Linked DNA regions of Homo sapiens: region 2 is linked to region 1. Evidence: fine-mapped expression QTL. Tissue or cell type: whole blood. Region 1 holds a variant in brackets; the other region holds the start of a gene. All regions are shown on one strand. Distances are between the middles of the regions.

Region 1 (5,857 bases):
CACCTACCACACACACTCCACATGCTCTGCTATCAATTTGAACTGGCCTTCGGAGAAGGAAGCTATCGCCAAGGTTGGCTTGGGGATTCACTCCCTGATGCTAGCTTCAAGTTGGGGTCCCCATAAAAGTGAGCCTGGTTTATTGCTTTGCATACAAAAGTATCCAAGAGACCAGATGAGCACAGATAGGAATGTTCCTTAGCCACAGTGGAACAGTTTCTTACTAAGAAATATAACTCTCTGGAAATATTATACTGGCAGATCAATTGAAAGCAATTTGTGTCCACTGTGACTTCCTTTGCAAATGCTGCTCTGAGAACTCAAGCTAAGGGGCTCAGTCAGAATAGGGCTTTGGTCAAAATAGGAAGTATCCATAATGCCTGCTATTTTATAGCATGGGCTAGTCATATCCCATACTGTAAGCAGTTCAAATGTTTGGAAAATTAAGTTGCTTTTGCTCACTCTTATCATGCCTCTGACTCTGCAGAGCGTAGGTAAGTACCAATTTGGAGCCCTACCATTTTTATTTGTTATTTCACCGAGGTAAGCAAGGTGGGAGCTGCCCAAGACAATGAAGGTAGTCATTACCCTTCATTGGGCTAAGTATATAATTTCCCCAGTGATGCGCTGGGTAATAACAAAAACTTATGTGAGGTACATGTAGTGTTATATTCCCTGGGGCTTAATATGGCTCTCAGTAAAATTGATTTTCTGAAATCTTGCAATATACCTCATCAAACTAAATGAAACCTGCACTGGTTTTATAAGAAGTGATTGGATTCCATGTGATAAATTAACCCTCACCGTCAGAGAGGTGCTGGGTAATAGGCTGGTTCATTTCAGCCCCTACAGCTGCCATCCAGGATTTAAATTTCTCCCCAGATCCTTATCTAATCCCCTCTGGGACCCGGAGGAGCTTCCACCCAACTGAGAGCCTTGGAGGGCTTAGCTGGTCTGGCTGAAAATCATTTCTCCCAAGATGGAGATTTATCCCTGTCTCCACGGGAAGGGAGATTGCTGGTGATAGTGGGAGGGCCTTGGAGGTCAGAGAGCAAAGGCGAAGGCACACGGGAGTGCCGGAGCTCTGGGACAATGAGTTTTGTGAATGGTCAGAATGGGGCTGTGTCTGAGAGGAAGACCACCTCTGCTCCTCTGCGATTCTCCCTTTAGCAGCATCAGTGGGTTATGTTAGGAGGTGTGAGGGCCCCTCCTGACCTGCATTTTTACCTTTACATCTTGTGTGTATGTTTATAACACTCAGGTGGCTGAAATTAGCTTTGCCTCTCCAAGAGAAAACAGAGCCTTCCCCCGTAAATAAACATGTGAATCAGGCCTCAGCAACCTAAAGGGGGCATCTTCCTTTGGAAGGGAAAGTAGGTATGACTGGGCTTTGATTCAGCTCATCCCTGGGAGACCGGTTCCTAAGGTAATAATAGCTTGAGGGAAATTACTCCCCACAAATCCTAGGGGAGAAAGTTGGTTTCCTCTGTGAGAGTAACCAACATCCATTAAGCAGGGATACCTACACAAGCATTTCCAAAAGACACAGAGTTTCACAACGATATTGAAATCCAGCTAACAGTATGCACCAAGTGCCTGGGGGAATCAATGGCAAGATTGCTTACCTTGCAGAAAGATACCCTAGATGCGAGCATTGTATTGCTAGAAATCCAACTCTGTTTAGCATGATTAACTTGGCAAGAGTAGGCAGAGCCCCTGAGAGGTGAAAATAGCAGGAGTTTAAACGAACAAGTGCTAGGTCCCCTTTCTACCCATCACAGCTCAGAGTAGATTAATTCTTGGCCCCACTCCCTTCTTCCTTTTCCTAAGGTCCTGCCCAAATTAATAAGTCTTGGGAAAAGCAAAGAACTGACAAGTTCCCCCCAAGTGGCCTGTGCAGTGTCTTGTTTCGCTGGAGGGTAATCTTTTCAGGGAGGAAAACCAAAGTCCAAGAGAGAGCTTTGGGGTTTGTGAACCATTTGCAGGGAGGGGATAAGAAAAATGGGAGAGTTGTTTTCTGTTTAGGAGTATGATGAAGACCAATGTTCCCCAGCCCGAAAGCATAAACTATTTCAGAGCATCTAGGTGTCACAGAGGACAATTTTTCAACGGCAAAAAAAAATGGGTCACATTTTACTTTCAATAATTAACATCACCACACGATATGAGGTTTTTTTTTTTGTTTGTTTGTTTTTTGAGTCAGAGTCTTGCTCTGTTGCCCAGGCTGGAGTGCAATGGCACAATCTCAGCTCACTGCAACTTCCGCCTCCCAGGTTCCAGCATTTCTCCTGCCTCAGCCTCCCAAGTAGCTGGGATTACAGGTATGTGCTACCACTCCTGGATAATTTTTGTATTTTTAGTAGAGACAGGGTTTCACCATGTTGGCCAGGCTGGTCTCGAACTCCTGACCTCAGGTGATCTGCCTGCCTCAGCCTCCCAAAGTGCTGGGATTACAGGCGTGAGCCACCATGCCCGGCCATGATATGAGTTTTGTTTGTAAAAAATGTTTTTAGTTTTGCTATTCAAGTTTATGTTTTCTGTATTAAAAAAATAAAAAGATAGTGGCATGCCGTTGCTCCTGTCTGACTCCTTTCCTATGTAGCTGCGTTCTGATTTATTGCTGTAACCTGGGTGCTGTGCAGATGTCCTGGTGTATAATAAAAGCTCTGTGACTGTTGGTTGAAAGAATATGATGCCAGGATTGCAGAGCTCTTCACTGTGATGTTGTCCAAGAAGCAAATGGTAACCCTGGGCAGGTTCAGGTGGAAGTCTATACTCAGCCAGTGGGGGAAGACCCTGGACCAGGTTGCTGGACTGCTGTTAGTGCCTCTTCCTCCCTTTAGTGTCTCCAAATGAGCAATGCTACTGTGCAATGACTACTTGCTGTTTGGCTTTGTCTCACCCTGTCAAGACGTAGAACGTGACCTTTGGCACCTGGATGCCTTGTTAGGTTTGATGCAGGTTTTAGACTTACTTGAACTTCTCCATCTTTCATTTCACTTTAAAAATGGAGACAATTCACGTAAGAATCTGGGGTTAGCTAGGACCTGCTATCCCTTTATCTTTCTCTTTGACGTCAGTATTCTAAATATACTGAGGTATATGGTTGAGTGTGTGTGAGTGTGTGTGTCTATGCGAGAGAGACAGAGAGAGACAGAGAAAATCAGGAAAAGAATACATAATCTCTCCATGCTGTAACCTCTTTCTGTTTGCAAAGGACACCTTCAAAAGGAGCCCTAGCCCTTTGATAGCATGCTAAAATGTTCATTTTTAATTAGTTTCTACTTCCTTCATTTGCAGCAATTAATCCTGGTTCCTAACTTTCATTTCTATAAATAAAGGTATTTAACAGAATTGTGAGGT[A/G]TTTATATACTCTGTACCTTATGTTCTATCTTGCAAAAGCACATTATTCTAGGAGATGTGTGTGCTCTGACCTTAATCCAGAAGGTGCAAAAAGAAGCAAGTTTTCTACTACTTATGGCTTCTTGAGAGTTGAATCTCTAGCTTCAAGACACTGGTAGGCCCAGAATTGGACAGAAGCGTTGTTTGTCTGGTTCTTATGCCTAGACTGAGCTTCTTTCAAAGGCCATGATGATCTCAGAGACACACTAAGGTGGTGCAGAGCCAGCCCAGCCATGGGAGAACCAAGGAGAGCTTGTAAGTTTTATTGTGGCTGTAGGGCTCGGACAAGGGTACTCAGCCACCTGTTTTCCCAAGTCTGCAATTGCCATCTTCAGGTCTAAGGCCGCTGGGGAGACTTACCCAAGGAAGTAGTGAAGAAACACTGAGTTTTACTGGTCCCATTCCTCAACGTGTATTTATTGAGTGGTAAAAAGTAGACATTGGTGGAAAAAGCACTGCTTCTTATATGGTAATTAAGCCCTATTTTGGTTTCTAATTTGAACAATATGGTCCACACTCCTCTGCTCATAGATGTGATGTGGCTAAAATGTTAGGGAGTGGGCAAAGAAAGGGGGCTGGGAGCAGGGGCTAAGCCCGCACGTGGGCTACTGTCCTTGGTCCTGAACACAAACGTCATCGCATGTTACGACATAGTCACATCTCATAACCCAGAGACACTAATGTCTCCTGTTCAGCCTCTTGGAGAAATCCTGAGTGAGGTAAAGGAAAAGGCAGTGGTAGCAGAGAATGCAGGAGGGTGTCAAAGAGATACAGCTACCGATGGGAAAGAGTATTTTTATTTATAAGGATTAAAAGAGATTTTATTTGGGCAAAAGTGCTCATAGTTTCTCTTTTTAAAAATTATCTTTAAGGGGACAAAATGCAGTTTCTGTCCTGCTATTGAAGAAATGTGGCTGTACCTTATGCTCTACGAAGTGGTTTATGTTGTAGAACGTCTGGCTGGCTTCTTGTAAATTTGACAGTTACAAATAGTTTCTCTTCTGGGGTGTGTGTGTGAGGGTGCCACATGCCCCTGTGCCCCACCACTCCCCGCCCTGTTCCCCCAGGATTCATCAGCCTGACACAGTCACAATAGAGTAACTCCCTTGCTGGGGTGTGCTCTGCCATGATCACTGTTCATTGCCCACCATCGATTCTTAGTTTATATTAAGGATTCATGTAAAAGCCCAGCCGTGCTGTCGGCCTCCTCTCAGATATGTGTTCTCTGCTCTCCTGTACACTTTTCTCCTAAGCTCTCAGAAGAATCTTTCATCTTACCACAATTCATCCCACAATTTCTTGGCCTTGGAAAGGGTTCAGCACAGAGAAGAGAAACCAAGAATAGCTTTTGGAAGTCTCATGCCATGGCTGACAACGTGAGTAGGTTTCTAAGGACTGTGTCTTTTCAGATGGAAACCAAACTCAAGATGTTTTCAATTCCTTGGCAGTCAATCTTCCACCTTGACTTCCACATGTAAGGAGGTGTTTAAAAGTCTATTTACAACTCTTGTATAATGTAAGGGCAAATTATTTTGTTGCTATGTTCGTTCCTGGTTAATTGAGAAAATCATTCTGTTTAGCCAAGAGTAAAACCTCTGAGATTTTTCTTCTCATTTCTCTGCATGTCTGGGGAAACAGGCAGCAGTAAACAATCATGCCCTATTTTATTCCTAGTTAAGTGAATTATCATAATACTAATTACTAGTAAAAACATCTGGTTTTGGCACAGCTCGACACAGGGATTTCTCAGTGCAAGATTTGATATTTGCCCTGAAATCTTAACCTTTGCTGGGCTTCCCAGCTCCTTAGGCTGACCCCTCTAATATTTGAGCTCAAGACCTTCCAAAGCTGATAGTACTTTCAAATTTAGATGAGCTATCCCATAAGAGACTTTTTCTGGTTACTGATATGCACAATACCTTTTTGTATGTCTTTATTGCTTGTTTAATTTTCCATGGAAACCATTCGCATGAAAACAAAGTTTGGTTCCTTACGTCAGTTCCTGTTGCTTCTCCCAGTGTGACCACCTGAGATGATTATCCAGTCACTGTGGAATTTAGCAGGATGCCACTGTGAGAATAAGACACCATCTGCAGGATAATGCTCTGAATCTGGGGGCTGGTGGTGGTGGTGGCTAAAACTCTTGTCAGACTGAAAGCTTGTTTAAAAGCATGCAGTTCCTGAAGTCTGAGCCAACTTTAGTTCTTCCATGGGAAGGTTTTAATGACAAAGAAAAATTAAAGCCATGTATCTCAAAGTGTGGTCTGGGGATCATTTCGTCATAGCCCCATTATTAAATCATTATTTAAATACAGATTTATTTAAATAAATAAATATTTATTATTTGGATCATTATTAAAATACAGATTCCTGGGTTATGCCCTACACCTACTGAATCAGAATTTCTGGCATTTGTATTTTTATCAAATCCCCCCAGTAATCATAAAGGGGATAC
Region 2 (5,857 bases), 67 kb after region 1:
TGTAGGGGACTCAGTAGGAACTCAAATCTCAGGCTGGACCTTGCCCTGGGTAAGTGACCTTGGGGAAGGGGAATGGTATCAGTTGGGGTTTTTTGTTGTCGGCAACAGAAAACCATCCAGGCTCACTGGAGCAATGAGAGAATTGAATGAGATGATCTGGAGAGACAGTGATGCCATGGAAGGCTGGAGGACAGGCAGTAACCCTGGCACCTTGGAGAGGGGGAGTAGAAGCCGCAGGAACTGCCCTTTGGTGGAAACACAGTCAGCGCTTGGTGGCTGAAGTGAGTGAACTCAAGAGTCCTAGAGGACAGCTGTCCTGCCGGGTTCCCTGCTGTGCTGGGGCAGGAGGAGGAGGAGGGGTCCAGACTCTTGGCCTCAGTGATGGGAGTCAGGGTACAGGGTTCACATCCTCCCAGGACCACCCAGAGTCCAGGGGGGTGAGCCCTCGAGAGAAAATCAGCAGCTGTCAAAAGAGGAAATGAATGTTGGGAGGCTGAAACAATGACAGATATCTATCGCATAACATTTCCTTGCTTGAAAAAGAGGGGCTGCATTGGACGACCTCTATGCTCCGTCTTCATTAAACATTTACTAAAGCTCTCCTGTCACTGCTTTCTTGAGTTCTGTGCCTTTCTTTGTCTGGGGGTGTTGAGATGCTTTGCTAGGGATGTTTTATTGCCTGCGGTGTCTCCCTTGGCCTTTGGTGTTCCCTGGAGTTCTCCTCAGTGAGGCAAGGGACTCTGTTTGCTCAGGAAGGTCACCAGGCTTAGAGTGCTATAAAAAACCAGGGAACAGCTTCCTGGTATAGATCAGTTTATTAATGTCTTCTTTGTGATCTGTACCAGTTGTAAATATTATATTCATTATAAATAATAATTCAACCTGCCATTCCTTCTCTGGTTCTCAGTCACCTTGTCTATAAAACAAGAGGGTTGAATTAAATGATTATTAAGGTCTCTTTCCTCACTGGCCCTATTGGATTCCATGAAAATTAAACTCCTCTGGGTAGACAGTCTATGGGGCTTGACTGTGAGGCATCCCCCAAGAACTTGGAAATGGGAAATACAATTTCCATCTGAGAGAAAAATTATAAAACCAGCCAGCACCAGATCAAAGAAGATCTATTTAAAGTCTCCTTATATGGACAGGATGAATTTCAGACCAGAGCAGCCTGGACTGACAGCAGGAACATTCTGAGGGACAGAAGGGCCTGTCAGAATGGATGCAGCGTCACAGACACAGAGAGAAATGAGACCGAGGAGGATCGTCGGGATGATTCAAGCTCTGACTGAGACAAGGCTGGGGTGATGGGTGTCCGCACATTAGTAGGCTCTGGGCCTCTCCTGGCTGCATCTCTGTTATGGAGAAGGTGAGGGGCATCCAGCTATCATGACTGGGTGCCCTAAAGCAGGGATGAAAGTCAACATCTTTAACAATCCATACAGCACAGGCACCACCCAAACAGCAAGATCTTCAGCTACAGCTGGAGCAGGGACCTAGGGTCCCCATTCTACCTGCATTTACCTTCTAGTGGCTGGGAGCTCTGTGAGGTCCCTGATATGAGAAGGGCAGTGAGTAGGAGCAGACAGGAGGCTCCAGGAGCAGGCTCCTTACCAATTAGCTCAGGATTTTAGTATGTTGATAACTTAACATGTTTGAGCTATTCGGTTCAACCCCTTTGTCTAATTCTAACTCACTGGGAAATCCCTGGATTGGAATGCAGTTTCCCATATGCTTTGATCTACAGGGAACGAACAGGCATGACTGGCTTACATAATTGTGAGATGACTATATTTTTCAAGGTAAACAGTTTCTGCTTTATCAGTCTCTTAGGAGCCTGGTTACATTGATCAATGTGAATTCACCCCTATGAGAGAAATCCACTCTTAGCTTGCTGACAAAGTCAATTGCCTCAATTACAAAAAAAAAAAAAAAAAAAAGATTCCCGAACTTGCCCCATAGAAGCAAGACAGCCAAGCTTAGAAGCAGCCAGCCCAGCCCTTTTTCAAACTTAGAATCAGTGATCCAAGGGTCCTTTCAGTATTTTTCCACAGGATCTCTGGCTGAATTTCCACAGCATGTGAAAATTCAACTATACACAAGACAGCATGATGCAGCGATTTTCTTTTTTTCTTCTCTCTCTCTCTCTTTTTTTTTTTTTTGCACATTTTATTTTAGTAGCACAACTCTTATTTTCAAATGATCTTACGAAGGACCTCAAGCTGCAGATATTCATGTCTTCACATCAGGCGTCTCTACTTGGGTGTCTGACAGGCACTTAAAATATAAGATGTCCAAAGAGCATTCTGGATGCCCTGCCCCCGCTGCACATGCTCCTCCCTAATGTGCCCTCATCTCTCAGGCCTAACACCTAAAATCATTCTATTCTCAGGTCATCTCTTAGCCTCAAACTCCTGCTTCCAGCTACAAAACATATGTAGAATCCCATCCCTTCCAAGCTAGGGCCCACATAGCTGAAACCTTGTTTTCAGCCAGTATCCCCTCTTACCTGGATGACTGCAACGAACTTATAATAGGTCTTCCCACTTTTATTACTGCTTCCTATACTTCCCTGGATCGGAATGCAGTTTCCCATATGCTTCTACCTACAGGGAAAGAACAGGTATGGCTGGCTTACATAATTGTCAGATGGAGCAACATTTGCTTCACTTAAAATTGTTTTTAGAAGTCTAGACTTTAGAATCTCTACTTGTTAATGACAATATAACAATGACCAATTACTACCATTTTAAACGTATTATTTCTCTATTTAGTGAAATAATACGTTTAAAATGTAGATCAGATGGTGACTTTCACCCTGTTCAAAGTGCTCCAACATCTCCCATCACTCTTAAACTGCAAACTCCTTACCGTGGTCTACCAGGCTCTCTGCCATCTGGTTTCCTGGTAGCCCATTGGCTGAACTGCCAGCTGCTGTCTCCTTGACTCCTGTGGCTCCAGACACACTGGACTTATTGTTGGTTCTCAAATGTGCCAAGCTTGTTCTCTGCTTTGCATTTGCTGTTTCCTCTGCTTAGAACCTCTGGTGCCCTTGACTTTGAATGGCTCACTTCCTCACACCAATCAAGTCTTTGCCTAAAGTCTCTGCCTTTGCTCAGAGAGGCCTTCCCTTGCCACCTCTTTAAAATAGCCTGCCTCACTCCTACTCTCGAGCTCCTCAGTCAGCCCCCACCCAGCACACACCACATTTCATAGTGGATGTTGTTGTGTGCCACTCAGATCCCCTGGCAGAACCGAAAAACGCTTGTCACCTTAGCTGCTGGGAGTGCAGGCTCCACCAACTCACACCTGAGACACTTTCCAAGCATTGCAAAGTGTCAGAGGTGTGTCATTTCCTCTGTCAGAGGAAGCTGCTCCACCCACATGTACACCCACTTCCTGGAGGCAGCTTGCATCCAAAGGCTGGTCACATGGGAGTGCAAATGCCCAGTCCTCCAATCTTAATTAGGACAACACTGCTTGTTGTCCCAAGCTGCAAAGCTCCTCAGGAGGAAGACAGAAAGCAACTTTTCCATCTGTCCGACCTGCGTCCCTCACCCTTCACACTTGTTGCTCCTGAGATCACGCCCCAAAAACCTCCTGCAAATCTCTTTGTCAGAGTCTACTTCCTGCAGAACCTGACCTGTGGGCCTCTACCCCAAATTGTGGGTTTTTAACTTACTTGTTTATTTCCTGTCTCTCCAACAAAGACGTAAGTTCTGTAACAGCAAGGAAAGGTCTATCTTACTCCCCTCTCTATCCTGGCCCAGACGCCTAGACAGTGCCTGGAATACGTGGAAGTTCAATAAATATTGAATGAATAAATGAATGCACCCCCCAATCTATATAATAGATAATAGGGAAACTGTCTTCCTGAAATTGTTTGTGTGTCAGGGGCACTCCTCCCTCTGTCACTCCTCTACCCACCGCTGGAGAAGTACCCAGGGCACCTCAGCAGCACCTTCAGGCAGAGTCAATTTTAGAATCAGGAAAGCAAGATTCATAGCCAGGTTCCATCACTAGCAAGCCCTTCCCAGTATCTCCTGGAGTCAGTATTGGGCCTTGCAGGCTCTTTAGCTTGTTCGACTGCGACAATGAGCGCCACACTCCGCTCCTGGAAAATAAGCTGGGAGAATGGAAAAGCTAATTGAATTGGTTCATCTCTCTGAAGCCAGTGATAAATCTTAGGGGTCTGAAGAAGGCCCTAGGGGATCTAATGCCCCCAGTGAGATCTGGGGTGGGGAAATTGACCTCAGACTCTGAACCTCGAATCAAGAGTGGTTCATTTTTACTACAGAGCCTGGAAGGGAGACTGCTTGGGACCTGCCCTTGGGTGACTCCTGCTGGCCCCTGGGGAGCCAAGTTTTATTCCAGTAGAATGTCCAGGAAGCTGTGCACCCTGGTGACAACTCACTTTCGCCTATGCCTTTAGAGTAAGTCTCCTTCTTGATTTCCAGGATTGGAATTCCCTGGAATGTTCAATGTGCCATCATTACCAGGACATAAAGAATGTTTCTGGGTCAAGAAGGTGCCAGAGATGGTTTAATGCACATCCTCATTACCTAATTGTTTTCTCCTGGTCTCTTCTCCAATTGCTTCCGTGTCTGATGAATTTTTCTCTGCTTTCATATGTGTTTTTGACAGAGACAGGGGAGCAAGGCTATCTGTGGGCTTTAGATCGCCTGACTTTTCTTTTGAGCATGATGAGTTGGAGTTAGATAATGCAGGGAGACCTTCCCCCTGAACCAGGGAGGGAAATGTGGCTGGGAATGCCCACAGACGGGTGATGCCCCTCTGTCCTCAAAGTGTGTTAGACGAGTTCTGCTCTCACCTGCCCCTAGACAAGAGGCAGTCCATTAGATACTTCGCATCTGCGGTAGACTGAACCAGCACCAGCTGTGAGAGTGGCTCTGCAGCTTGGATTTCACTTCCTCCAGAAGGCAGCCAGGACAAATGCTGCTGCTCATTCTCCAGGAGGAGGTTCCAGGATGATCCAGCCATTGTTCCTCTTCGGTAGCACAAAGGCAAGGTTACCCAGAGCGGACCCAGCAAATATCCAACAGCCTTTGAGACAGTCTGGACACATCCACAGTGGTTGTTGGATGGCTCATTACACACTCTCTGAGGAGACTGGTCTCGGGTCCCTAAGCAGATTGATGTTGGCAGTGGCCCGGGAGGCAGGAACATGCATGAAGGACACAGAGGCGAGAGGAGGCGGAGCTGGATGGAGTGCATCTAAGGCCTGGGGCCAGCCAGAGAAGACACATCTCCTCCTCAGCACCACTGAGGCCACACAGCCAGGCTTGTGAGGAGATGCCTCTGAGGACCTCCGAAACACACATCACTGGCTTGAGTATAAGAGGTGCTGGAGCACCTGTAGTAGCAAACATCCTCCTAGAAAGGCAGATAATGCCTCATCTCTGCCAAGGCTAAATTGTTTTTATAACATTCTCATCATTATTCTAAAGAATAAAACCATTACTAGTACATAATGTCCTCATCAGGGTACAAGACAGGCCCCAGGCTCTATTCTTGGCCCTGGCAGTTATCTGGTTGAGTGACTTAGTAATCTAGGCAAGAGCTGCCTCAACCTTTTTTTTTTTTAATTAAATTTTTTAGGCCAGGCACAGTGGCTCACGCCTGTAATGCTAACATTTTGGAGGCCGAGGTGGGAGAGTTGCTTAGGCCAGGAGTTTGAGAGCAGCCTAAGAAACAAAGCAAAACCCCATCTCTACAAACAAACAAAGAAAACAGCCAGGCATGGTGGTGCACCTGTAGTCCCAGGTACTTGGGAGGCTGAGGTGTGAGGATCACTTAAGCCCAGGAGGTAGAGGCTGCAGGGTGCTAGGATTATGCC

The links. PIP is the estimated chance that this variant, and not a neighbour inherited with it, causes the effect.
Region 2: LINC02273 starts here. The variant in region 1 is fine-mapped to the expression of LINC02273 in whole blood (INTERVAL, PIP above 0.99).

Annotation. Positions count from the first base shown.
Region 1 is chr4:152,164,927-152,170,783 of GRCh38, reverse strand. No RefSeq gene overlaps it. Among named protein-coding and RNA genes, the nearest start is that of LINC02273, 67 kb to the right of the region's middle. The variant A/G (reference allele first, on the strand shown) is at 3,364.
Region 2 is chr4:152,098,233-152,104,089 of GRCh38, reverse strand. LINC02273 (long intergenic non-protein coding RNA 2273) reads right to left here and starts at 3,337. Exons shown (of 3, transcript NR_121628.1): 1 at 3,273-3,337; 2 at 2,510-2,606; 3 at 1-463. RefSeq lists enhancers at 1,185-2,384, 2,679-3,179, 3,279-3,573, 3,180-3,680.